4 linked regions of the Homo sapiens genome follow. The protein of the gene in region 4 interacts with the protein of the main gene of each other region in a biochemical or structural test. Each region holds a gene or a part of one and is shown on either strand. Other genes may lie near its edges.

What was found.
Region 1: the proteins of CHEK2 (region 4) and FHL1 form a complex in vitro, tested with the Homo sapiens proteins (one study listed by BioGRID).
Region 2: the proteins of CHEK2 (region 4) and XRCC1 form a complex in vitro, tested with the Homo sapiens proteins (one study listed by BioGRID and IntAct).
Region 3: the proteins of CHEK2 (region 4) and PPP2R5C form a complex in vitro, tested with the Homo sapiens proteins (one study listed by BioGRID and IntAct).

What each region holds. Positions count from the first base shown.
Region 1 is NC_000023.11:136,199,846-136,207,097, reverse strand, and holds part of FHL1 (four and a half LIM domains protein 1), read right to left. Parts: intron 2,197-7,252; exon of another isoform or gene 2,159-2,196; intron 692-2,158; coding exon 510-691; intron 83-509; coding exon 1-82.
Region 2 is NC_000019.10:43,565,382-43,572,633, reverse strand, and holds part of XRCC1 (DNA repair protein XRCC1), read left to right. Parts: intron 1-7,252. UniProt on the Homo sapiens protein: Scaffold protein involved in DNA single-strand break repair by mediating the assembly of DNA break repair protein complexes. Negatively regulates ADP-ribosyltransferase activity of PARP1 during base-excision repair in order to prevent excessive PARP1 activity.
Region 3 is NC_000014.9:101,925,492-101,928,512, reverse strand, and holds the end of PPP2R5C (serine/threonine-protein phosphatase 2A 56 kDa regulatory subunit gamma isoform), read right to left. Parts: 3' UTR 536-3,021; downstream 1-535.
Region 4 is NC_000022.11:28,689,821-28,696,820, forward strand, and holds part of CHEK2 (serine/threonine-protein kinase Chk2), read right to left. Parts: intron 6,054-7,000; coding exon 5,890-6,053; intron 5,423-5,889; coding exon 5,307-5,422; intron 4,298-5,306; coding exon 4,212-4,297; intron 1-4,211. UniProt on the Homo sapiens protein: Serine/threonine-protein kinase which is required for checkpoint-mediated cell cycle arrest, activation of DNA repair and apoptosis in response to the presence of DNA double-strand breaks.

The sequences.
Region 1 (7,252 bases), on a different chromosome or scaffold from region 4:
AGGTCTCATTGGCCAAGGGGTGAAGGCACTTGGCACAGCGGAAGCAGGTGTCATGCCAGAAGCGGTTCTTATAGTGCACCTCCTGGAAACCAAGCAGACAGGGTGGGCCACCATGAGGGGTGCTGGGGGTGGTGGCAGGAGCCCTCCCATAAGGCTGATTTCCCTGGGACTGACCACTGAGATGACACAGTCCCTTACACCTGGGACTGCCCCACAGTGACTATTCTTATAGGAGGGACGCTGAGGTGAGGATAAAAATCTCACAATTCTTGAAATATTTAGAATGCAATCAAAAGAGCTGGCAAGGGCGCTGGCGCCCATCCAGTCAAGCCCCACATTAAACAGCTCGGGCCACTGTGGCCTGGGGAGTGGAGGAGGCTTCCTTGAGGCCTCAAGGTGGCTGCAGTGATGCTGGGAAATCCTAACAGCCAGCTGCTGCTGCCATGGTTGTGGGCAAAGGACACTCCAAAACCCAGCCCTTCCCATTGGCACATGGGGATGCCCGTTACCTTGGAGTCCGCACCGATGGGCTTGCGGCATTCCACACAGGTGTTGGCACAGAACTTGTCAAAGCATTTCAGGCAGCAGTGGTGGCCATCCTTTTGCACATACTTCTTCCCCTGCAAGGGATCCCTGCAGTAGTGGCAGTCAAACTTCTCCGCCATGGTGCCCACCTTGTAGCTGGAGGGACCTGCGGGGGCAAGCAGACAGGACAAATGACCACAGGAAATGCCCCAGCACCCTGAGCAGTGGCTCCCAGAGGCACCTGCACAATGCTGCCTTGGAGTCCATGGGGTCTGAGGACCAAGACCCAGCTTCCCCTTCAGCCGAGCTGACTACCAGGCACCAAGACAACAGATACTTCACTATGATTCCAGGAACAAAAGCACCCCGCGGGGCCAGATGGCCGATGGCTAGTGATTCCCTGGGGAGATGGTAGAAGCCCCTGCTCAGATATATCAACTGTGCTGATTCACAAAAGATGCGGAGCGGGGCAAGTGGATCAGAGCCTGTGTTGGCCAAGTCACCAGATAGGGGACAGGATGCTGGGAGGTATGGCTGAGCAGTGCTATTGTGCCATTGAGCAGTGACCCGATGGAGTGGAGGGGTGTGATGGGGCAGGCAGGCAAGAAGCAGTTGTTTTATACAAAGGAAGAGTGTGGGGCAGAGGCTCAAAGGGGTGCAGGAAAGCAGGGGCCCCGCCTGCAGGCAGCAGCTTCTCTAAGCCCACCACGTTGTCATCAAGAAGCCTCTCTGCCCGCTTTCAGCTCTTCCTCCGTCTCTTTTTAGGGAGGGTAGTATCCTCTGGAGGCCTCCCGTTCCTCCTATCTATAAAATTCTATTCATCAGAATAGAAACTGACAGCTCATTCTGTACCACACCAGGTACCTAAGCAATCCTTGTTAATTTGTTTAAAATGTTTAAATTTACTTGCAATTTAGCAGAAAAGTGTTAAATCCCTGAATAGATCCTAAAGAGTTTTGTCCAAGAGAGTTTACTGCCTTTTGAGGCCAGAGCAATATAGCAAGAGAGGACTTATATAAATGGCTTTGTCAATTGGCACAGGCAAGTTTGGCAACCTTGAATTATCTGTCATAGTCACGGGTGGCTTTGTGACCAAAATCAAACCCTCCCTTGAGTCAAGCAAGTGAGAATCAATATGCTCATAGAAGTGTAACCAGTATTACCATTTGGGATATTTGCTGTCTTAAAAATTATAATCTTAAAATAGAGTCTGGAAAAAATTATTCCAAGAATCCCTTCCACTCCCTCCGTATGAACAACCCCTCTTCCCTCCCTGGTCCCCTCCCCGGCTGTGGCCCTAGACAACACGCCTGCAATCCCAAGCATTACTAAGGCACTCTGCAGCTCCCTTTGCCAAGGCATTTCCTATAGAATCCTGCCACCCAAAAGGTACCAAATATGAGTTTCTATTAGCTTTCAACTTCTTTAAACATATGCTAATTTGTTCCTCTCCCCCGAAAAAGAAATTTGCACGGGTAAATAGATAGCAATTATTTCATTTGTGCAGGAAATACAAGAATTGAGACTACTTTCTAAAACTATCCACAAACATGGTTATTGTGCTAGCAAACTTCCAGCGTAATTTAGAGAGAAAGAATGAGAGAAAATAAATGAGCAGTTGCCTGGTACTCACCGCAGCTCTTCCACTAACTGAAAGCCCCAAAGTCTCACTTTGGGTTCCATTCCCAGGTTTTTTTTATACAAACACATGTCCAAGTTATTTGGATCTTGTTGCCATGAGCAACCAAACAGCAGAGAGTGAGCTAAGGAAACCACACCCTGTGTTTGAGAAGCCGCCTGGGCAAAGGCTGTTGAACTCTCACTCAGAACCAAGCCTCCAAACAAAGGAAATCAGGCCACTGGATGAGCCACAGGGCCTTCTGCCTCCTGCTGACACACAGACCCCCCTCATCTCTAAGGAGCTGGCAGATGAAGCAGATGAGTGACATTCTTGTGCAAGGACAGTTGCTTAGGACAGTTGTGTCACAATTAAGAGACTTAGCAAGACCAGAGAATGGTTCTAACTTGAACTTTTCTCTAAAAAGCAAACTGGGATGTTTCTTTATATAATGGGTTAGAAACAAAAACTAGAGACGCAATGGACACAGGGCCTATCTCCTTGAACTATGTACTGTTTAGGTAAGGAAGCTTTTAAACTGCTTTTAGCCTGTGTGTCTACAGAGAAAAGTACCTGTCCCAGTGACAGCATATGGAAAATCACTCTCTTTAATCCATTCTTGTTGGTCTTTCCAGTGTCACACAGAAGCCTCGTCTTAGCTTTGCCATACTGATAATATTGTGCCCTCAACAAAGACTTGCTTTCTTGTTAAGGGCTGAGTTGAGAAACCAAATAAATCTCCAGTAACGGCAAGTGGCAAGAAATAAATTATCAGTTGCTCCTAAATGCCATTTGGCAGGAAAACAGAATTTGTAAGATTAGACAGCACTGGCTTCCTGCATGGCTAGTAACCATTGCTGGTTTAGCCTTTCAGAGACTATCTTCTGGACCATATTTGAAAATCCCTCATTCTCTCTTACCAAGGTCTCTATTTAGTATACAACTTTGAACCTACTCGTTTTAGTATCACTTGCTTTTGATACCTTTATAAGCAGAAATTGATTCCAAATATTTCTAAGTTAAAGTACTATATAAAGTTCCACCTAAGGTGAGTCAAACCTCTTAGTATTTGAGTCCTAGCTTTATGGTAAGAAATACAGGTTAACTAGTGTCATACCAAAGAAAAAACACTAGAAAACACAATGAATGCCATTTAGAAGTAGAGGTTTTGAAGAGAAGGAAAACTGCATTATGGTTCAAAGTACCTGAGAGATCTTAACTGCCATGTTTTTCACACTTTAAAACCACACACTTTCAGTACTTTGATATTACCAGTGCAAAGTTCTTCATTGTTTAGTCTCATAGTTCTAGAACATGACTTGCTCAGAGTTCTAAGCATCCAGATGATAAAATAATCCACAGCTCACCAGTGAAGATAGAAGTAACAAAGGGTGTTGAAAATGTCAGACAATGAAGTCACTGGCCACTGTATCATTCCTATAGTACATGGTCTTAAACCAAGCAAAAGGAAAATTAAATGAATCAACCCCAAGTTAATAGTACCCATAAGAAGAGTTTCATCTCTTGGTATTTTTGAATCCTAGCTTTAGGCAAGATTTTTTCACTCTGAGTTTGAAAACTCTAGGGTCACCTTACACCTTAGATTCCCCACCACTCTATACTTAAACCTGCAGTCTGTATCCAGATGGAGAATCATTTCAAAGGGCATATTCTTTTAGAATACATTTCTACAATTCACTTGAGTCCTTTTAATGTGTGTGGAAACAATTAGTCTAGATAAAATAGGCACTTCTAGGAATGTTGGATTTGTTGCATAATAAGTAAACAGGCTAGAAATACTTAAAGTATGTTAACAATGTCTATGTCAAATTCATGAACTTTCGTATTTGTTTTGCAATAAATCAAATTAAGTGGAACTCTGGGCAACCTGAATTAGCTTACGTCACGTACTTCTAAATTTATGATTATTTGTTACAAAACAATTTCAAACCCTCATGCACGCAGTGTGCTCAGGATGAAGTTGGAGGAGATACTGATCACGTCACAATTTTGTATAAAATATGAATGATGTGCTGATGTGCACAAGACCAAAACAACTCTAAAAAGCCAGCTTATAAATGACAATGCTGAGACACACATGCAAAGATCCTGAGTGTGGGCTCCCTGAGTCTGAGCTACTATCAAGCTTTGACTTCATGAGGAGAGAAAAGCTTGCTCTTTCTTTCTTTCTTTTTTATTTTAGACGGAGTCTCGCTCTGTCACCAGGCTGGAGTGCAGTGGCGCAATCTTGGATCACTGTAACCTCTGCCTCCTGGGTTCAAGTGATTCTCCTGCCTCAGCCTCCCGAGTAGCTGGAACTACAGGCATGTGACACCACACCCAGCTAATTTTTGTATTTTTAGTAGAGACAGGGTTTCACCATGTTGGCCAGGATGGTCTCGATCTCCTGACCTCATGATCCACCTGCCTTGGCCTCCCAAAGTGCATTTTACAGGCGTGAGCCACCGCACCTGAGATTACAGGGGTTACAGGCATGAGCCACCGCGTCCATCCCAGCTTGCACTTTCTTTTGTTTGAAATGAGAGAATAGGGAAAAATGAAGATAGCATTTTACCTCTTTGTTGTTGTTGAGACAGGGTCTCGCTCTGTCACCCAGGCTGAAGTGCAGTGGTGCTATCCTGGCTCACTGCAACCTCCACCTCCTGGGTTCAAGCAATTCTCCTACCTTAGCCTCCTGAGTAGCTAGGACTATAGGTGAATGCCACCACGCCTGGCTAATTTTTGTATTTTTAGTAGAGACGGGGTTTCGCCATGTCGGGCAGGCTGGTCTTGAACTCCTGACCTCAAGTGATCTGCCCACCTCGGCCTCCCAACTTGATGGGATTGCAGGCATGAGCCACCATGCCCAGCCAGCATTTTACCTCTTCTTTTGGGCTCTCTTCAACCTTACAGAATTACATGTACTTAGGCATTTATTTCTTAGGGAATAATTTTTTATCCCCTTAGCTATTTCTAAGTACATGAAATGTGAAGGCCTTTAATCTTCCAGAACTTCTAGATATGTCTGCCTTGACCTATTGCTGTTATCCGGGAATGGGAGTGTCAGCCATCATTGAAGGAAACAATTGCTACACATCATCACCATGCTTCTTCCCTTACCACTTGTCTTTGTGGAGGGCATGTTTGCCCTCGGGCAGCTCTTTGACTAATTTTAATGTCTCGGTGTAGCCCTCATCTGTACATAGTAGGGATGCCAGAGTAGGTATTAGACATGAGCAGGGCAAGAGAGGGCCCCCCACCCAACCAGGAATGTCAGGCGGCCATCAGGTGAAGGTCAGATGGTTGTTAAACTATCTCTCGCTAAAATAATAATTGGTTGCAGCTGGCACCAAGGAAACACGGTCCCTAATAGACAGAAACACCTGAAACTGATGCTCAGCCACGTCCCCATGAGATCTCAGGAGGTGGGTAATTGGGCTCAAGCATGTGCACTAAGAGGCAAAATTGCGGTGTTTAACTGGTATAAGACCTACCTCTGGGAATGCTCTACTGCTAAGGGAAAAATCGCTTAAAGTAAGCATGCACACAACTTCAGTAAACACCACGCATGCGGCACTTCCCAAGTGCTGGCAGGCCACTGGGCATGCGGACAGCCCACCCCAAGGGAAGAATCAGGAGAGAAGTAATATAACACCCGAATCATGCCAACATATAAAAGCCCAGGTCAAAGGTCAAACCATGCACTTTTTGAATCTCTCAAGTAGCCTGCTTGGTCATCTTCTAAATGTACTTTACTTTCATTCCTGCTCTGAAACTTTATTTTATTTTTTGAGACGGAGTCTCACTTTGTCACCCAGGCTGCAGTGCAATGGTGCAATCTCTGTTCACTGTAACTTCCGCCTCCCAGGTTCAAGCAATTCTCCTGCCTCAGCCTCCCAAGTAGCTGGGATTACATGCGTGCACCACCAAGCCTGGCTAATTTTTGTATTTTTAGTAGAGACAGAGTTTCAGCATGTTGACCAGGCTGGTCTCCAACTCCTGACCTCAAGTAATCCACCCGCCTCAGCCTCCCAAAGTGCTGGCATTACAGGCATGAGCCACCGTGCCCGGCCTCCTGCTCTAAAAGTTTTTAATAAACTTTCACTCCTGCTCTAAAAGTTGCCTTGGCTTCTCCCTCTGCCTTGTTCTTCCTTGAGGAGGCAAGAAATGAGGTTGCTACAGACCCACAGATTCCCCGCTGCTAACATACTTTGGTGCCGAGTGACTTGGATACATTCCCTAGTGCTAACAAGTGGGGTTTCTCTATGACAGAAAGTTCTGCTCATACACTAGGGGGCCCCAGTACCTAATCCAGGGCTTTGTATACAGGAATCACTCAGTATATGCCTGTTGATTGACAGATGGAGATATGTTACCACAACTAAGTTTCTAAAACTTTGGTATGTGGATAGTCACTGAAAGTGGCTTCTGATCCAATTATCTGAGCCTCTATTTTGTCCATACCAACCCTATTTCAGGACCACACTGATTTCCTTTCTGTAAGGACTTCTTTCTTGGGCCTATTCTCCTCTGCTTTCATGGACTTATGAACCTAATGCAATATGACATACTATTTCCTGATTTTAAAAATCATCTTATATGACGTGTAAGGTGCTGAAGTCTAACCTACACCTTAGGTCCACATAAATGTCCCCTGATTTTCTAAGACAGAAAGCATCATTATTAAATAATTTAATTAAAAATTAACTAAATTAAAGTTTTACAAGCTTAGAATACAGTTAGAAATGTGGCTGGGTGATAAAATTTTAGACATTTATTCCAAAAGGGTAGCCTGACTTTCTATGCCTGCTTCAAAAGACACATCATTTTCACTTAATAAACAAGCTTCCTTTTTCAGAAAATTCTTGAACTACATCCAACATGCTGAGAGGTGCCTAAATAAACCTCAGTATCTTAATTAAAAGTTTTGGCTTTCAATTTAATCATGTACACATACAAGTAATATAACATTACAACATTTGTTTTTTTCTTTTTTCTTTTTTACTATAAACCTCTCATTACAGTCGATTTGTATTTAATAAATCTTGCTTGTGTTTTTACATGTATTTTCTCATGTATTTCTTCCTATTGTTCATCTTCTCCCTCATG
Region 2 (7,252 bases), on a different chromosome or scaffold from region 4:
TCCTGACCTCAGGAGTTCAAGGCAAATGAGCACCAAATGCTAATTTAAGTGATCCACCCACCTTGGCCTCCCAAAATGTTGGGATTACAGGCATGAGCCACTGCACCTGACCTCAGTCTTTTAAACTGTGATAGATACAGATTGCTGACAGTTTTAGTCTTGAGATCTAGATTCAAGCCCCCAGCTCTTCCTCTTAATCGGTGACCTCAAGAAAATTGTTTCATTTCTCTAACCTGTTTTCTCATGTGTCCATTGGGAATAATGACATCCAAGCCCGGAGTTGTGAAAATTCGGTGACATAATGTCTGCACAAGTGCTCTGTCAACATGTAGGTGTTTGTGTAGAGGGAGGGATTTGTGTTTTTATTACTTAGTGGGTGATGATTCCACTGGGCTCTCTTATGATCAAGTGACTCCAGGGAAATCACATTTCATTCTGTTACCCCAGTTGCTGTGGAAACAGAGTGACTGGAGGCAGAAGAGACAGAACCTGTCTCTGGCCTGGGAGAGACTGAGGGAGTATTGCAGCGGTCACCAACATGGTAAACCCCAGAGGGAGCAGCTTGGGGAGGTGATGTGTTTCAGTTGGGATGTCCAGGTTTGATGTGACTTTGGGACATTCTAGGGGTGGCATCCAGGAGGCAGTTGGGGATCACATGTGGAGCTGAAGACAGAATGTGGGGAAGTTGTCAGTGCAGAGAAAGAACCTATAGACTCGGGAGTAGATGATGGATTTATTTGTTCATTCACTCATTTATTTAGTCAAGTATTTATTAAGTGCCTTCTGTAGGCCAAGCACTGTTTTAATACAGCAGTACACAGCAGAAGACAAAAAATATTCACTCTCAGTGGGGTGCAGTAAGCTCACGCCTATAATCCCAGCACTTTGGGAGGCCAAGGCCTGGCAGTTCGAGACCAGCTTGGGCAACACAGGGAAACTTCATCTCTACTAAAAATACAAAAATCTGCCAAGCGTGGTGGCCTATGCCTGTGGTCCCAGCTACTCCAGAGGCTGAGGCGGGAGGATCACTTGAGCCTGGAAGATCAAGGCTGTAGTGAGCTATGATCGCACCATTGCGCTCCAGCCTGGGCAACAGAATGAGATGCTGTCTCTTAAAAACAAAAGAAATTCAGTCTTGTGGAGCTTTCACGTTAGTAGGGAAAGACTGACAAATGAGTCAGTGAAACATATGTTGGATGATGAGTGCTATGGAGGAACTTAATGAAGGGGAATGAGAGTGCCCCAGCTGGAGCTGGAGCAGTGGCAAGGATTTTTATTTAAATAGTAGGGTCCGGGAAGGCCTCCCTGAAAAGGGGACATTTGAGCAACATGAGCTATGTATGTATCTAGGGAAAAGACTCTGAAGCTGGCTTGTGACAGCAAGGAGGCCAGTATGGCTGGGGTGGAGTCAGCCAGGGGGAGAGAGGTAGGAGATGAGGTAACAGGGTGGGACTGGGAACCCCTAAAAAACCACTTAAGGCCTGGAAAGCCATTGAAAGGACTTGAGCTTTTACTCCAGGTGTGAGATAGGAGCCACCGGAGGGCTCCGAGCAGAGGAGGGACAGGATCTGCCTTAGGCCTTCACAGGATCCTGCTGGCTCCATGTTGACAATCAACTGCAGGGGCCACACACAGGAGTGGGAGATCAGCATTGCAGCAGTTGTTTTGTTAACTTACTCCACGTCAGAGACCCTTTGGAATGACTGATTGCATCTGGCAATGACTAATTTGTGGGGTTACTCTGGATTCATCAAATGCTAATTTTGATTCTTTTGACGTAACTGATAAAGGCAGACATTTCTGGCCACCAAGGCAGTAGGCTTATCTCTGGGTTGTTATGTTATGTTTTGAGACAGGGTCTCACTCTCTTGCCCAGGTTGGAGTGCAGTTGCAAAGTCATGGCTCACTGTAGCCTCAACCTCCTGGGCTCAGGCAATCCTCCCACCTCAGCCTCCCAGATAGCTGGGACTACAGGCGTGTGCCGCCAGGCCCAGCTAATTTTAAAAATTTTTCGTAGAGATGGGGTCTCACTATGTTGCCCAGCCTGGTCTCGGACTCCTGAGCTCAAGCAGTCCTCCTGTCTTGGCCTCCCAAAGTGCTGGCATTACAGGCATGAGCCACTGCACCTGGCCACATCTGTGGGTTCTTCTACTACCCTGCATTTTCTCCTCTAATTATTGTTATGCAAAATCTCGATCTTACCACATGGGGCTTAGCCATCTGCTTATGACAGCCCCACACACCTGGTTGTTTGCAGTAGCCACAGCAGGCTCTGTTGTCTGTTCATCACCTGCTCCCAGAGGGAAATGCCAACCTCTTTGCTAACTACTCCTGGGCTGGAGGGGTGGCTTGGACAAGACCCAGATATAACTCTGGTGTGTCACTGGAGGTGTGTCATTTTTAGAAGAAATGTTCATCAGCAATAGGGCCTATGGTCATTTTTGATTGTTATTGGTTTTCTAATCACTCAGTTCGCCACTGTGGTGTCTTAAATTTGTTTTTACTGTTTTTTGATGTGTAACATACATAGAGTGAAGTGAAGGTGTAAGTAAGAGTACAGCTCAGTGACTCTTTGCAAACTGCAGCCCTGTGTACTCCACACCCAGATGCAGCACAGAACATGCCTAGCCCCCAGCAGTTCCCTCAGGTTCTTTCTGTCAGTACCCCTGCAAGGGTAACCACTGTCCTGATTGTTAACAGCATAGATTCATTTTGCCTGATTTTGAATTGCATATAAAATGGAATCGTGTGGTATAAACTTTTCTTATCTGGCTTCCCTTGTTATGTTTGTTCATTTCATCTATGTCGTTCAGTGTAGCTGTAGATGATTTATTGTGATTTTTTTTTTTTCTGAGACGGAGTTTCGTCTTGTTGTTCTGGCTGGAGTGCAATGGCACAATCTCAGCTCACTGCAACCTCCGCCTCCCAGGTTCAAGTGGTTCTCTTGCCTCAGCCTCCCAAGTAGCTGGGATTACAGGCATGCACCACCACGCCTGGCTAATTTTTTGTATTTAGTAGAGACAGGTTTTCACCATGTTGGTCAGGCTGGTCTCGAACTCCTGACCTCTAGTGATCCACCTGCCTTGGCCTCCCAAAGTGCTGGGATTACAGGCATGAGCCACTGTGCTCGACTCCTATTGTCTTTTTTTTTTTTTTTTGAGACAGGGTCTCACTATGTTGCCCAGGCTGGAGTGCAGTGGCACCATCTCAGCTCACTACAGGCTCGACCTCCCGGGCTCAAGCGATCCTCCCACCTCAGCCTCCTCAGTAGTTGGGACTACAGGCATGTGCCAGTTCACCAGTCTAATTTTTGTATTTTTTTTGCAGAGATGGGGGTCTCACTGTGTTGTCTAGGCTGGTCTTGAACTCCTGGACTCAAGCATTCCTCCTGCCTCAGCTTCTTAAATCCTTGGGATTACAGACATGAGCCACTGCACCTGGCCTATTGTCATTTCTGTATAGTATTCTGTTGTATTGAGATAACTATTATGGTTTTATTTATTTATATTTGATTTTCTTTTTTAAACGGAGTCTCACTATGTTGCCAAGGCTGGTCTTGAACTGTTGATCTCAGGTGATCCCCCAACTTGGCCTCCTGAGTAGCTAGGACTATAGGTGCACACCACCACACCCAACTAATTTTTTTTTTTTTTTTTAAGCTTTTTGGAGGCAGCTTCCTGAGTAGCTGGGATTACAGGGATTACAGACAGAGCCACAAAGACCTGGCCATTGGGGTTTTATTATATTTGCTTTCTGAATGGGTATTATATGCATATAGTGCAAAATTCAAAAGGTGCAAAAGGGTATACACTAAAAAGAAAATCTCCCCTCACCCTTTCCATCCCTCCCTGCTCCCTCCCCAACTCCTGCTCCCTCCCCAACTCCTGCTCCCTCATTCTTCTCTCCTGATGCAACCACCATTAGCAGTTTTTTTGGGTGGTCTTCCTGGGTCATTCTGTACACATACAAGCATATATACCTACCGCCTCCATCCCTTTTTAAAAAATTCATAGTATATACACTGTTCCCTTGTGTGTTTTTTTTCAAGTAACAGTGTATTTTGGAGATGCACACTGCATGAAGTTCTACCTTATTTATTTATTTATTTATTTACTTACTTACTTACTTACTTACTTTGAGACAGAATCTCGCTCTGTCACTCAGGCTGGAGTGTAGTAGTGCGATCGTGGCTCACTGCAACCTCCCCCTCCCAGCTTCAAGTGATTCTCCTGCCTCAATCTCCCTAGTAGCTGGGATTACGGGCACATGCCACCAGGCTTGGCTAATTTTTGTATTTTTGGTAGAGATGGGGTTTCCCCATGTTAGCCAGGCTGGTCTTGAATTCCTGACCTCAAGTGATCCTCCTGCCTTGGCCTCCCAAAGTGTTGGGATTACAGGCGTCAGCCACGCCGTGCGCAGCCTACCTTATTCTTTTAAATGATGCATACAATTGCATTTCATGGCCGGGCGCGGTGGCTCACGCCTGTAATCCCAGCACTTTGGGAGGCTGAGGCAGGTGGATCACGAGGTCAGGTGTTCAAGACCAGCCTGGCCAAGATGGTGGAACCCTGTCTCTACTAAAAATATAAAAATTAGCCAGGTGCAGTGGTGGGCACCTGTAATCCCAGCTACCTGGGAGGCTGAGGCAGGAGAATTGTTTGAACCCGGGAGGCGGAGGTTGCAGAGAGCCGAGATCGTGCCACTGTACTCTAGCCTGGGTGACAGAGCAAGACTCTGTCTCAAAAAAAAAAAAAAAAGAAAAGATTGCATTTCATGGATGTGAAACAGTTTTTTAGCAATATATCTCAGGAACTTTGCCTTCCTGTGCCATGTTTGTTTCAGGAACAGTTCATATCAGAACTGTGTCTCCCTGAGAAAGCTGCATGCACACGAACCCAGGCCATCGGTGATAGTCATCTTGTGCTCTTATCCTCACAGCTGATACATACTGAGCACTCATCTCTTATTTTGAGAAAAATTCACATAAAATTTACTGTTTTAACCATTTAAAGTGCACATTTCAGCCAGATGCGGTAGCTCACACCTGTAATCCCAGCACTTTGGGAGGCCAAGGCGGGTGGATTGCTTGAGGTCAGGGATTCGAGACTAGGCTGGCCAACATGGTGAAACCCCATCTCTACTGAAAATACAAAAATTAGCCGGGGGTGGTGGTGCGTGCCTGTAGTCCCAGCTATTCGGGAGGCTGAGGCAAGAGAATCACTTGAACTGGAAGGCAGAGTTTGCAGTGAGCTGAGATTGCACCACTGCACTCCAGCCTGGGCAACAGAGTGAGACTCCGTCTCAACAAAAAACATAAATAAATAAATAAATAAAGTGCACATTTCAGGGTTTTTTTTTTTTTTTTAGCATATTGACAATGTTCTTCAACCATCTCCATTCTCTAATTCAGAATATTTTCATCACTCCAAAAAGAAACCACATAACCATTAAACAGTCACTTCTTATTCTCTCCCCAATGTTGCCCTTGGCAACCACTGATCTACTTTCTGCTTCTCTGGATTTGCGTATTCTGGACTTATAAATGTATACGTGGTCTTTTACACTTAACCTTGTTACACTTTGCATAATGTTTCTGAGGTTCATCCATGTTGTAGCATATATCACAACTTCAGTTTTTTAAATAACTGGATGATATTCCATAAATATACTGTACAATGTTTATCTATTCATCAACTGATGGACATTTATTGGGTTGTTACCATGTATATATAAACCTTTTTTTTTTTTTTTTTTTGAGATTGAGTCTTGCTCTGTTGCCCAGGCTGGAATGCAGTGGTGCAATCTCGGCTCACTGCAACCTCTGCTTCCCAGGTTCAAGTGATTCTCGTGCCTCAGTCTCCTGAGTAGCTGGGACTACAGGCGCATGCCACCATGCCCAACTAATTTTTCTGTTTTTAGTAGAGACGGGGTTTCGCCGTGTTGCCCAGGTTGGTCTTGAACTCCTGGGCTCAAGAAATCCACCTGCCTTGGCCTCCCAAAGTGTTGGGATTACAGGCGTGAGCCACCACCCCAGCCTCCATGTATAAACATTTTTATCAGATTCTTAAAAAGTATTTATTTACTTTTTTTTTTTTTTTTTTTGAGACAGAGTCTTGCTCTGCCACCCAGGCTGGAATGCAGTGGCATGATCTTGGCTCACTGCAACCTCCGCCTCCTGGGTTCAAGCAATTCTCTGCCTCAGCCTCCCGAGTAGCTGGGATTACAGGCGCCTGCCACCATGCCTGGTTAATTTTTGTATTTTTACTAGAGACGGGGTTTCACCCTCTTGGCCAGCCTGGTCTTGAACTCTCCTGACCTTGTGATCTGCCAACCTCTGCCTCCCGAAGTGCTAGGATTACAGGCCTGAGCCACCGTGCCTGGCCACTTTTTTTTTTTTTTAGATGGAGTCTCACTCTGTCACCCAGGCTGGAGTGCAGTGGCATGATTTCGGTTCGCTGCAACTTCTGCCTCCCAGGTTCAAGTGATTCTCTGGCCTCAGCCTCCTGTGTAGCTGGGATTACAGGTGCACGCCACCAAGTCTGGCTAATTTTTATATTTTTAGTAGAGACAGGGTTTCACCATATTGGTCATGCTGGTCTTGAACTCCTGGCCTCAAGTGATCTGCCTGCCTTGGCCTCCCAAAGTGCTGAGATTACAGGTGTGAGCCACTGTGCCCAGCCTGTTGTTTTCTCTCTTGAGACAGAGTCTCACTTTATCACCCAGGCTGGGGTGTAGTGGCTCGTCTCAACTCACTGCAACCTCCACCTCCCAGGTTCAAGTAATTCTTGTGCCTTAGCCTCCTGAGTAGCTGGGATTATTGAGGTGCGTGTCACCACACCCAGCTAACTTTTTTTATTTTTGGTAGAGACAGGGTTTTGCTATGTTGGCCAGGCTGGTCTCGAACTCCTGGCCTCAAGTGATTCTCCCGCCTCCACCTCCCACGGTGCTGGGATTACAGGCGTGAGCCAGTGCTCCTAGCCAGGACTTTTTTTATATACAAAGAAGAAATGTCAGGGAGTGCCTGTTTAAAGTAGAAATAGTTATATATGCAGTAGGAATTGTTCATTTAAAATACAAGCATCTCCATCCTACCACATTTAGGAGCTATGCTGAATATTGTGGGAGAGGTAAAGATGTTGAGTTTGACTCAGGGATGGAAAGAAAGGAGTTGAGAACAGTGGTGGTATTGGACAGTGCTTTGCAGTCAGGCAGTTGCGTCCGAAGTACTCTGCTAGTTATTAGCTTGTGTGCC
Region 3 (3,021 bases), on a different chromosome or scaffold from region 4:
CAGAGCTTGCCCTCCCACGCCAGCCGGCGTGCTGACCACACGCAGCTATGGAGAGGTGAGGTTATAACCACGACACGAGCAGATAACACTTTAGTCCTGTTTCCATGGGCTTCTCGCAAGAGCATCAGCGAGGATAATGATCTCTCCACTGAGGAGGAGGTGGGCGAACTAGGATCCTAAATTCATACTTTCAGCAATTCCCTATTTTCAAGACTTTCATTTCTATAAATTGTATTGATTCACCTTTTCTTACTCAAAAAAAGCCCCAAAACCCAAACCAAACCAAGAGGCGGTCTATAAAAAGTCACACTGCCTTTTCCACTAAGTAAGTAAAAAAATCAGTGGATAGACTTAGCTTTGAACAGCTGTGGCTAGCATCTGGCGCAGCCAGCGCTCCAGGCGGGCTGGATGGAGATGGCCAGCCCCTCTGCAGTCAGCGTCCCTGTGTGTGGGCGGCCCTGACCTAACGGGAACCCGATAACGTCAGAGCCAGCTTGCTCAACACCATGGCTAAATTTAGTTTCATGATGAGCAATAAAATTCACATGTTCTTTATTTAGTCCATATGATACACCGTTTTTTAGAGTTTTTGAAAATTAGATAAAAGAGCATATTAAATGGCAAGTGTATGAAGTTTCTCTTCATAAACAATGTCAAAACAAAAAGTTTTGAATTACAAAATGTTAAAAAATATGTCGGTACTTAACATTTCACTAATGCATAAAGTTACAGATATTTTCTAAAGAAAAATAATTGTGCCACTTACCTATATTTGCTGTTTCTATGAACTTTTTTATTCTGTACATAGGACATTTTGTACAAAATATGAAGTCTACATTTTTATTACTTATTACCATAAAACAAAGATACAATGTATGTACAATATTAAAAGGAAGCCATACTAAAGCCACACTAAAAAGACACTTGGAATAGTGACATTTCTGATGTACAGATACATTTTGGAAAGAGTGAAGATGCCAAACGCAGAACTTTATGAAGAAAAACAGTCACCGGTTTATTTTCAATGTAGTACTTTTGAAATCAGTTTGGTACAGAATAAACAGTCTCTATACAATGATATGTAAGCTGACAATTAGCACAGGAGTCCGAGTACTAACTAGGGAAACTTTAGGAGGCCAAAATATTAAGTAATACTCTTGCCAAAGAAAATTAGTTTCTCTGAAAACTTTTATTTTTCTTTTTGGTGAGTGTTTGTCTTCAATAAAGAGCAGAAAGAAAACCTAGACAAAAAGATGTTCTTACACACTGAGCTTTACACAGTCACCCAAACATTGATATTTTGCTTTTTCCCGAGGGCAAAAAGAGAGTCTTCCCAGAAACCTCTCTCACAAACATACTGAACATCCAAAATCAAGGATATTTGAGAATCTATCAGCTAAAGACGGAAGTTCAAACAATGGTATATCAAAATACATAAGACGCTGCTTTATACAATAAAAAGCACCCTTTTTCCCTCAAAAGGAGAAGGCATCTAAACTGTTTTTTTTAATGATAGTTTTCATAATGGTAAAATGGAGAGATACTTGTCAAGTTTCTCAGGAAGTATTCATCTCACAAAGCGGACTTGTCCACTTTTAGCTGGGGCAATCTTCGCATTTCATACCTGCACTTGCTCTTACCACAAGAAGTCCCCTCCCCCCAGGTGATTTTCCTCCAAGACACGAGGACAGAAGCATTGCCAGTGGCTTGAAGTGACAGCAGTGGGCAGGAGGTACCAGAGCTGCACAAGGAGCAGTGTCTGCTTCTCACTATCTTTGAAAGGATACCCGAGACCTCGATGAAAAAACAGATCCTAAAATAAGCCACATTTTGTCTTTTATGCCTCAAGACACTTAACATTAAGTTATATAATCTTATGCCAGAGATGAAAGAAACTAGATCACGTGTTTAGAATAGCAGTACACATCTCAAGTAGCTTTCAAGCAGGATAAATAAGTCAAAATACTGGCCACCCTGAGAGAAATAAAGAATAGACAAAGCACTAAGTTTAAAGATTTTTCTCCTTGTGCTATTCCATCTAAAACAAAAGCTCAGTACATGCAAGGAACTCTGTGGAATATATAGCAGCATGTGAAGACCGATGAAAACTCAGACACTGTATTTTCCTTACAAGGTGTTGATAACGTGAGCTCTTTTCAACAGAAAGAGCTCCACTAAACGTCATCCTCGCTGGTGCCTCCTCCAAGCTCTCAGAACAGCACTGCAGCCTTCAGTGAAGGCAGCGGCAGTGCCGGCCCCGTGCAATGCTGTTGTGTTACTTTATGCTTAAAGGCGCTGCAGTTTGCATTAGGCTAAGAACTGGCTTAACTCAAAATGATTTTGCTCTAACTTTCCATAAAATGTGGAATTCTTAGAGACTATAATTTTATTAATTCAAGAGCCTTGTTGAAGGGCAACAATGTTTAAGTTGACGGAAACGAAATCTGCAAATAAAAATATTAACACATAATTTTAAAACTCCAATTTCTGTCAAGGTAGACAGAGCAAGCTCTTTTAAGATAAATTTCAGAGCAATCTCTTTTAAAATAAATCTCTTCTACAGGCTTACTCCTGGAATCCTGGAGTACCACAGACTTGGAAATATGGCTTTAGGTACACACAAGAGAAGGAGACACGGTGTTCATGTCACTCATCAAAGTGAAGAGACCCCTTAGAAAATACCAGCGGCTGAGGATTGTCATTTGCCCAGTACGTTGCGTGAGAACTCGAAAGCAAAGAGCCATTTCACTGAGATTGAAAAACAAACAAAACGAGAACTGCTGGCGTAACAATCACGTGGAAACCATTTCAAAGGCTGTAAAGTCTTAAAAAATAGGTCCTATTTTTTAAAGCGTTCCTTTGATTTGGAAAACACTGATGTTATCACAGAACCACCTATGTTAAAAGATCCTAAGTTCCATTTGGGAGAACATGAAGATGAAGGGCAGGGTGCTTTCCTATCGCTCTGACTTTGTGAAATAGTCTGACTTGGACTACGCTGGGGTGGCGGCGACACTGCGA
Region 4 (7,000 bases):
CAGGAGATGAGGAGGGCACAGACAGTGTGTATGCGAGTAGCTCCCACCTCTCTGGATGCTCACTTCTGCAGGGTTCGAGGATTTGCATTAGGAAACCCTGAGAGGTGGTCTGGTGCAGCTCTCCCCATCTTCAGCAAGGTGAAAGGAACATCCATAACTAGGAATGTGGCCTTTGAGTGCTGGCCAGAAGCCCAGCTCAGCCACTCACAGGTGGCATGTGCAGAATACAGACCCAGAGTTATCTGATTCCAGTGCCTCATGTACTTTCCCACCCAACTCCAGCCCCTCCTCCCACTGAGCCAAGCATACCACAGTGGGGAAAGGGAGAGGATACAGTAAAGTCCTCCACCATTTGGCAATTTGATGGATATGGAAATTTTACAACACTAGGTTGGGCATGGTGGCTCATGCCTATAATCCCAGCACTTTGGGAGGCCAAGGTGGGAGAATTGCTTGAGGCCAGGAATTTGAGACCAGCCTGGGCAACATAGTGGGACTTCGTCACTACAAAAAAAATTAAAAATTAGGCCAGGCACGGAGGCTCACGCCTGTAATCCCAGCACTTTGGGAGGCCAAGGCAGGCGAATCGCCTGAGGTCGGAAGTTTGAGATCAGCCTGGCTAACATGGTGAAACCCCTTCTCTACTAAAAATACAAAATAAGCAGGGCATGGTAGTGCACGCCTGTAATCCCAGCTACTCAGGAGGCTGAGGCAGGAGAATCGCTTGAACTCAAGAGGCGGAGGTTGCAGTAAGCCAGGATCACACCACTGCACTCCAGCCTGGGCAAAAGAGTACAACACTGTCTCCAAAAAAAAAAAAAAAAAAATTTAAATTAGCCAGACATGGTGGCATGCACCTGTAGTCTCAGCTACTTGGGAGGCTGGGGCAGGAGGATCACTTGAGCCTGAAAGTCATGGTGCAGTGATCATGCCACTGCACTCCAGCCTAGGTGAGAGAGCAAGACCCTGAGGAAGGAAGAAAGGAAAGAAGCAAGGAAGGAAAAAGGGGAGGGGGGACGAAAGAAGGGAGGGGAAAGGAATGGAGGAGAGGGGAGGGGGAAGGAAGGAGGAAGAAAGAAAGAAGGAAAGAAGGACCAGGCACAGTGGCTCACGCCTGTAATCCCAGCACTTTGGGAGGCCAAGGCAGGGCAGATCACTTGAGGTCACTCTGTTTTGAGTTTCTCAGTGTAGCTCCCCATTGCCATTTGACAGCAGCAAGCTCATCTGGATTCTACTCCGCACCCTCTCACGGCCTTACTTAGGATCTCAATTATCTTGCAGTGTCACTCTCAAAAGTCCATCTCTTGGCAGCCCTTCAGTGAAGCCAAACAGAGTGGTCACAAGCCTAATCAGGCCTGTATTTAAAACAAGTAATCAGGTCAGGCACAGTGGCTCATGCCTGGAATCCCAGCACTTTGGGAGGCCAAGGTGGGTAGATAACCTGAGGTCAGGAGTTCGAGACCAGTCTGACCAACATGGTGAAACCCCATCTCTACTAAAAATACAAAAATGAGCTGGGATGGTGGCAGGCACCTGTAATCCCAGCCACTTGGGAGGCTGATGCAGGAGAATCACTTGAACCCAGAGGTAGAGGTTGCAGTGAGCTGAGATCACACCATTGCACTCCAGCCTGGTAGACAAAAGCAAGACTCCATCTCAAAAAAGGAAATAAATAAATAAACATTGATTTTCTTCATGATGTCTACAATTATTCCAAAATATTAAATTAGCCAGGAACAGTGGCTCGTGCCTATTATCCAAGCACTTTGTGAGGCTGAGGCGGGAGGATCCCTTAAGGCCAGGAGATCAAGGCTGCAGTGAGCTATAATTGCACCAGTGCACTCCAGTTTAGGCAACAGAAGAAGACCTTGTCTCCAACAGTAAATAAAATAAAAATTAAATTGTAATATCCCTTGAAAGTAAACAGAAGAAATCCTCTATTTCAGGCAGTAAATATGAGGCAGAGAGTAGATGTAAGGGATGCTCCCAAAACTGGGCACTCTGTTAATGACAAAACAGAGACCAGAATCCACATTCCCAACACTCAGTTCAGCGACAGACCCACAAAACCATTTGGTTTTTTCAAAAACACTGAATTTTCCCAAAATAAAACCCAAACTATCACTAACAGATGTTTTAGATGGTCAGTCTTCATCCTTGTCTTCATTCAATGCTCATTCCTCCTTTCACTGCAAAAACAAAAGGTGGCTAAAAGAGTATTCCAGGGAGATCCTGCAACAGAGTTGAACTTCACCTTCTCCTTGGTTGTTAATAAGTTTTCTTTGACACAAAAAAGTACAAGAAAGATAGGCTATGCTTGCTCATAAATTTCAGGCAGATGCAAACCCTGTTCCCAGGCTCAACTGGCCAGCTCTATTTTTTGTTAGAGATGAACACAGCTCCTGTACCTCTACATTTAGACCCAAGAGTTTCCCTATTAGGACACATGAAAAGAGCCAAAAGACATGTTTCTCTTTTTCATCAAAATTAAAATCCCCACATGCAAAGGCACCCTTTGTTTCCAAACCCCTTTCCTCCAGGGTCCCACTGTTTCAAATCTGTGTGGTCTATTAAATGCTAAATCATCTGACAGATTTCTTCTGGGGAGACTGTAGTTTCCAGGGCAACATCCAAACACATATATGTCTTTTTTTGTTTGTTTGTTTGTTTGTTTTAAGTTTTTGTTGTTCTCAACCTGAGCTGGCCTGAGCAAAACTGTTAGGTGTAGAGGATTGGAACAGAGAACAGGGACAGTCTTCCCAGAGTCCCAGAAGTACGGGTCGGAGGCTGGACTGCCCAAGGAGTTCCTGGACCAGTAATCCCCAGAGAAACAGCATTTAGCTCAAGTAACAGCCTCTAGCTCAAGCTACCAGTTCTGTCCCCCATCTCCACAGAAAACGGATTGATACAGTTTGGCTTTGTGTCCCTACCCAAATCTCATCTCAAATTGTAATCCCCAGGTGTTGAGAAAGGGACCTGTTGAGAGGTGATTGGCTCATGGGGGCAGTTTCCCCCAGGCTATTCTCGTGATAGTGAGTGAGTTCTCACCAGATCTGACAGTTTCATAAGAGGATCTTCGCCCTTCACTTCCTTCACAAGCTCTCTCACCTGCTGCCATTAAGACATGCCTTCTTCCCCTTCCACCATGATTATAAGTTTCCTGAGGCCTCCCCAGCCATGTGCAGCTGTGAGTCAGTTAAACCTCTTTTCTTTGTAAATTACCCAGTCTTGGGCAGTTCTTTATAGCAGTGTGAGAACAGACTAATACACAAACCAAAAAAAAATTCATAGAAAGGGGCATGTCTGTGCTGAATGGAACTGCTCATTACAGAAGACCAGACATCTATCAGAAAAACCTGCCCAATGCCGTGGCTAATTCTAAAACTAAAGATTAACCCAGCAAAGCCACAACATACTTCCAACTCTTGGCAGTTCCAGATGAGGTCAGCATTTAAAAATGGCAGCCCCAACCCCTAGCAGGAGCACAGCGGTAATACAGATGAAAAGTGCAGGTGACAGCCTTCATTAAGGACACATTTACTCACCTGAATGAACAAGCAGTGGGACCCTTTATACCCAGTCACTTGGGCTTGAGAAATAGCTGGATTCTCCCCAGGGAGGCTGTCCTCCTCCCCCTCCCCCACTTCCCTGATTTAAGGTTGAAGATGGCTGGAATGCACCCCACCTATGAAGAGCAGTGGACATGGCTGGGGGTAGAGCCAGAACAAGCACTCAAAAGAACACAGGCCAAACAGGAGACTCGGGGCAGCCAAGTGGAACCAGAACAGGACATAAAGTGAGCGTGTACATCCAACAGCCATGAGTAATATCAAAAAGGTTGTAGCCTGGCCAGCACGGCGAAACCCCATCTCTACAAAAAATACAAAAAGTAGCTGGGCATGGCAGCATGCACCTGTAATCCCAGCTACTTGGGAGGCTGAGGCAGGAGAATCACTTGAACCCGGGGGCCAGAGGTTGCAGTGAGCTGAGATCGTGCCACTGCACTCCAGCCAGGGTGACAGAACAAGAACCTGTCTCAAAAAAAAAAATAAAACAGGTTGTAACCCATCCTCCAAGATACCCCCCATACATCTAAAACAATTAGATTAAACACTCAACAAAGTAAACATGTTTCTGTCCTCTGTCTCATGTCTCTCAGGCAGCAGGGCTTCCCATGTATTTTATGCTAGCAGGCACTGTCCCACACCCACCTGAAGCCACGGGTGTCTTAAGGCTTCTTCTGTCGTAAAACGTGCCTTTGGATCCACTACCAACAACTTCTTGACAAGGTCCAGAGCTAAAGCAACAATTGGGCAAATCACAGTGAAAAGGATAAATATATTATCAGTAAGAGTATGCCAGAATTAACAGGCCACCATTCAGAAAGAGCAGAGAGGGTCTGAGATCATCACGGAGTCAGCAGACAGGGCCCCCTAATCTTCCTCACTCTCTGTATTCAGAGTACTGTGAGAAGACCAGGAATGATAATGACACTCCCTGTCTCCTGCTGCTGGGACGTCAGTCACGACCTCTTCACTGCCTGTTCCCTCTCTTGTTGCTAGACTCAAGGTCGGACTAATTAAAGCTAAACTTCTACCCAATTCTAAGATACTTGGGATGCACAGCAAACTCTCTCTGACATCTACAGATGGATAGGTGACAGTTACTCAGCGAGGGAGAGGCTCCCTGGAACTGCAGACTTGTCAGAAATAAAACTTGGCTACTCCAGCAAGCAACAAATGCACGCTGGCCTGTATATTACAACATTATTATTCCTTAAATATTCTGACATTTAACACAATCACCTATGTTATGTTATTTGACATTTAATTTTCTACTTTCTCTTCAGGGAACTAAAGTTGCCAGGATAAATTATAAAATACAAGGTAACTAATGACATCTAGTTTTTACATGCTTGCTTACTCAAAGGAAACCTTGTAACTAAAAAGTTACAAGTGCATTTATTTTGCTCACTAAAATAGGTACCAGGCACTTGTGTACATGATACTTAACCCTCACAAAAACCTTTTAAGGTAGGGTTTATTGAGGGTCCCTTTACACAGAAAGAAATTGGAGATGGAGGTTAAATAACTTGCCTAAGGCCACACAGCTAAGTAGTAGCAGACCCAGGACCTGAGTGCATGCTCTTAATAATTTCCAGTGCCTCTCAAATGGTGTGAAACTAACAATAGAAAATAAGAACAGAATTGACAGGAGAAAACACCATGGAATTTGGGAAGAAACTCCCACCACAGCACATACACATTTTAGCATACCACAAATTCTTAACCCTTTCATATTCATACCTTTCTCTGAGACTTCTGCCCAGACTTCAGGAATGAAGTTGTATTTTCCACTGGTGATCTGATCCTTCAGTGACACTTGAGTCCTATGCTCAGAGAAAGGTGGATACCCACTAAGGCTTAATATTGGTAGAGAGAGAAAGGAAAAGAAATCAAGTGGCATTCTCAGTGGCATTCAGATATAAAGATTTCTTTTTCAGCATAATGAAAAGTCAGATTTTTCTTTAAATCAATGGTCAAAAAGTGAGCTAGGCTGGGCACAATGCCTTAGGCTTGTAATCCCAGCACTTTGGGAGGCCGAGGCAGGAGGATCACTTGAGCCCAGGAGTTCGAGACCAGCCTGGGCAACATGGCAAAACCCCATCACTACAAAAAATAGAAAAATTAGCTGGGCATGGTGGTGTGCATCTGTAGTCCCAGCTACTCGGGAGGCTGAGGTGGGAGGATCACTTGACCCAGGAGGCAGAGGCTACAGTTAGCCAAGATCAAGCCACTGCATGCCAGCCTGGACAACAGAGCAAGACACATTTGTGACTTCATCTAATCACCTCCTACCAGTCTGTGCAGCAATGAAAATATTTCTTACCAGATAAAAAGAATAACTCCTAAACTCCAGCAGTCCACAGCACGGTTATACCCAGCAGTCCCAACAGAAACAAGAACTTCAGGCGCCAAGTAGGTGGGGGTTCCACATAAGGTTCTCATGAGAGAGGTCTCTCCCAAAATCTTGGAGTGCCCAAAATCAGTAATCTAAAATTCAGTACAAAAGGGAATAATGTTGAACTTGCCATAAAATAAAAAGATTAACATAGTCTGCCAGTCCAAGAAGACACGTAGGCTAGATCAGTTTCTATTGTACAATTCACACCTGCCATTAATCTGGAATTTACAGATTCATGTCTTTGCAAGTTAGGACATTTAATTTTGCTTAAATTAAAATTCCTGAGCCTAGGAATCTCAACACTCAGGCTTTCCAACTTAACCTATGTCCTCTGTAATCTTACAAAAAGCTTATTATCTTTATCACAGACACTTCAGGATTCTAATTAGTTCTACATGGTTCTTAGACCCCAGTGTCTCAAACTTGGCTGCGCTATGGAATACCTGGGGAGCTTGGAAACACATGCTTATACCTGAGTGCCACTCTCAGCTTCTGAGGTAAAGCCTGGGTGTCATAAATCCTAACAAGAGATTCTAAAGTGATGCCAGACTTGAGAAACAGGGAAAGGCAGCGCATGTGATTACTCATTCATTCATTCACCTATTCTGAGATGATGTCTGGCCCTTTTGCACAGGCTGGAGTGCAGTGGTGCGATCTCAGCTCACTGCAACTTCTGCCTCCCAGGTTCAAGTGATTCTCGTGTCTCAGCCTCCCAAGTAGCTGGGATTACAGACACCCACCACCATGCCCAGCTAAATTTTTGTATTTTTTGCCATGTTGGCCAGGTTGGTCTCAAACTCCTGACCTCAGGTGATCTGCCCACCTCGGCCTCCCAAAGTGCTGGGATTACAGGTGTGAGCCACCATACCCAGCCCACTCGTCCATTTAGACCCCTCCTCTCTCTCTAAGCACAAAGGTCACTTGTACACAACAGAGCTCAATAAATGCTCATTCGAATCTGGATAAGAGCAGTATCACCTGATCTCTAAAATAATTGGTAACAGTGAAAGGGTCAGATTCTCATCCTTTTTACGCT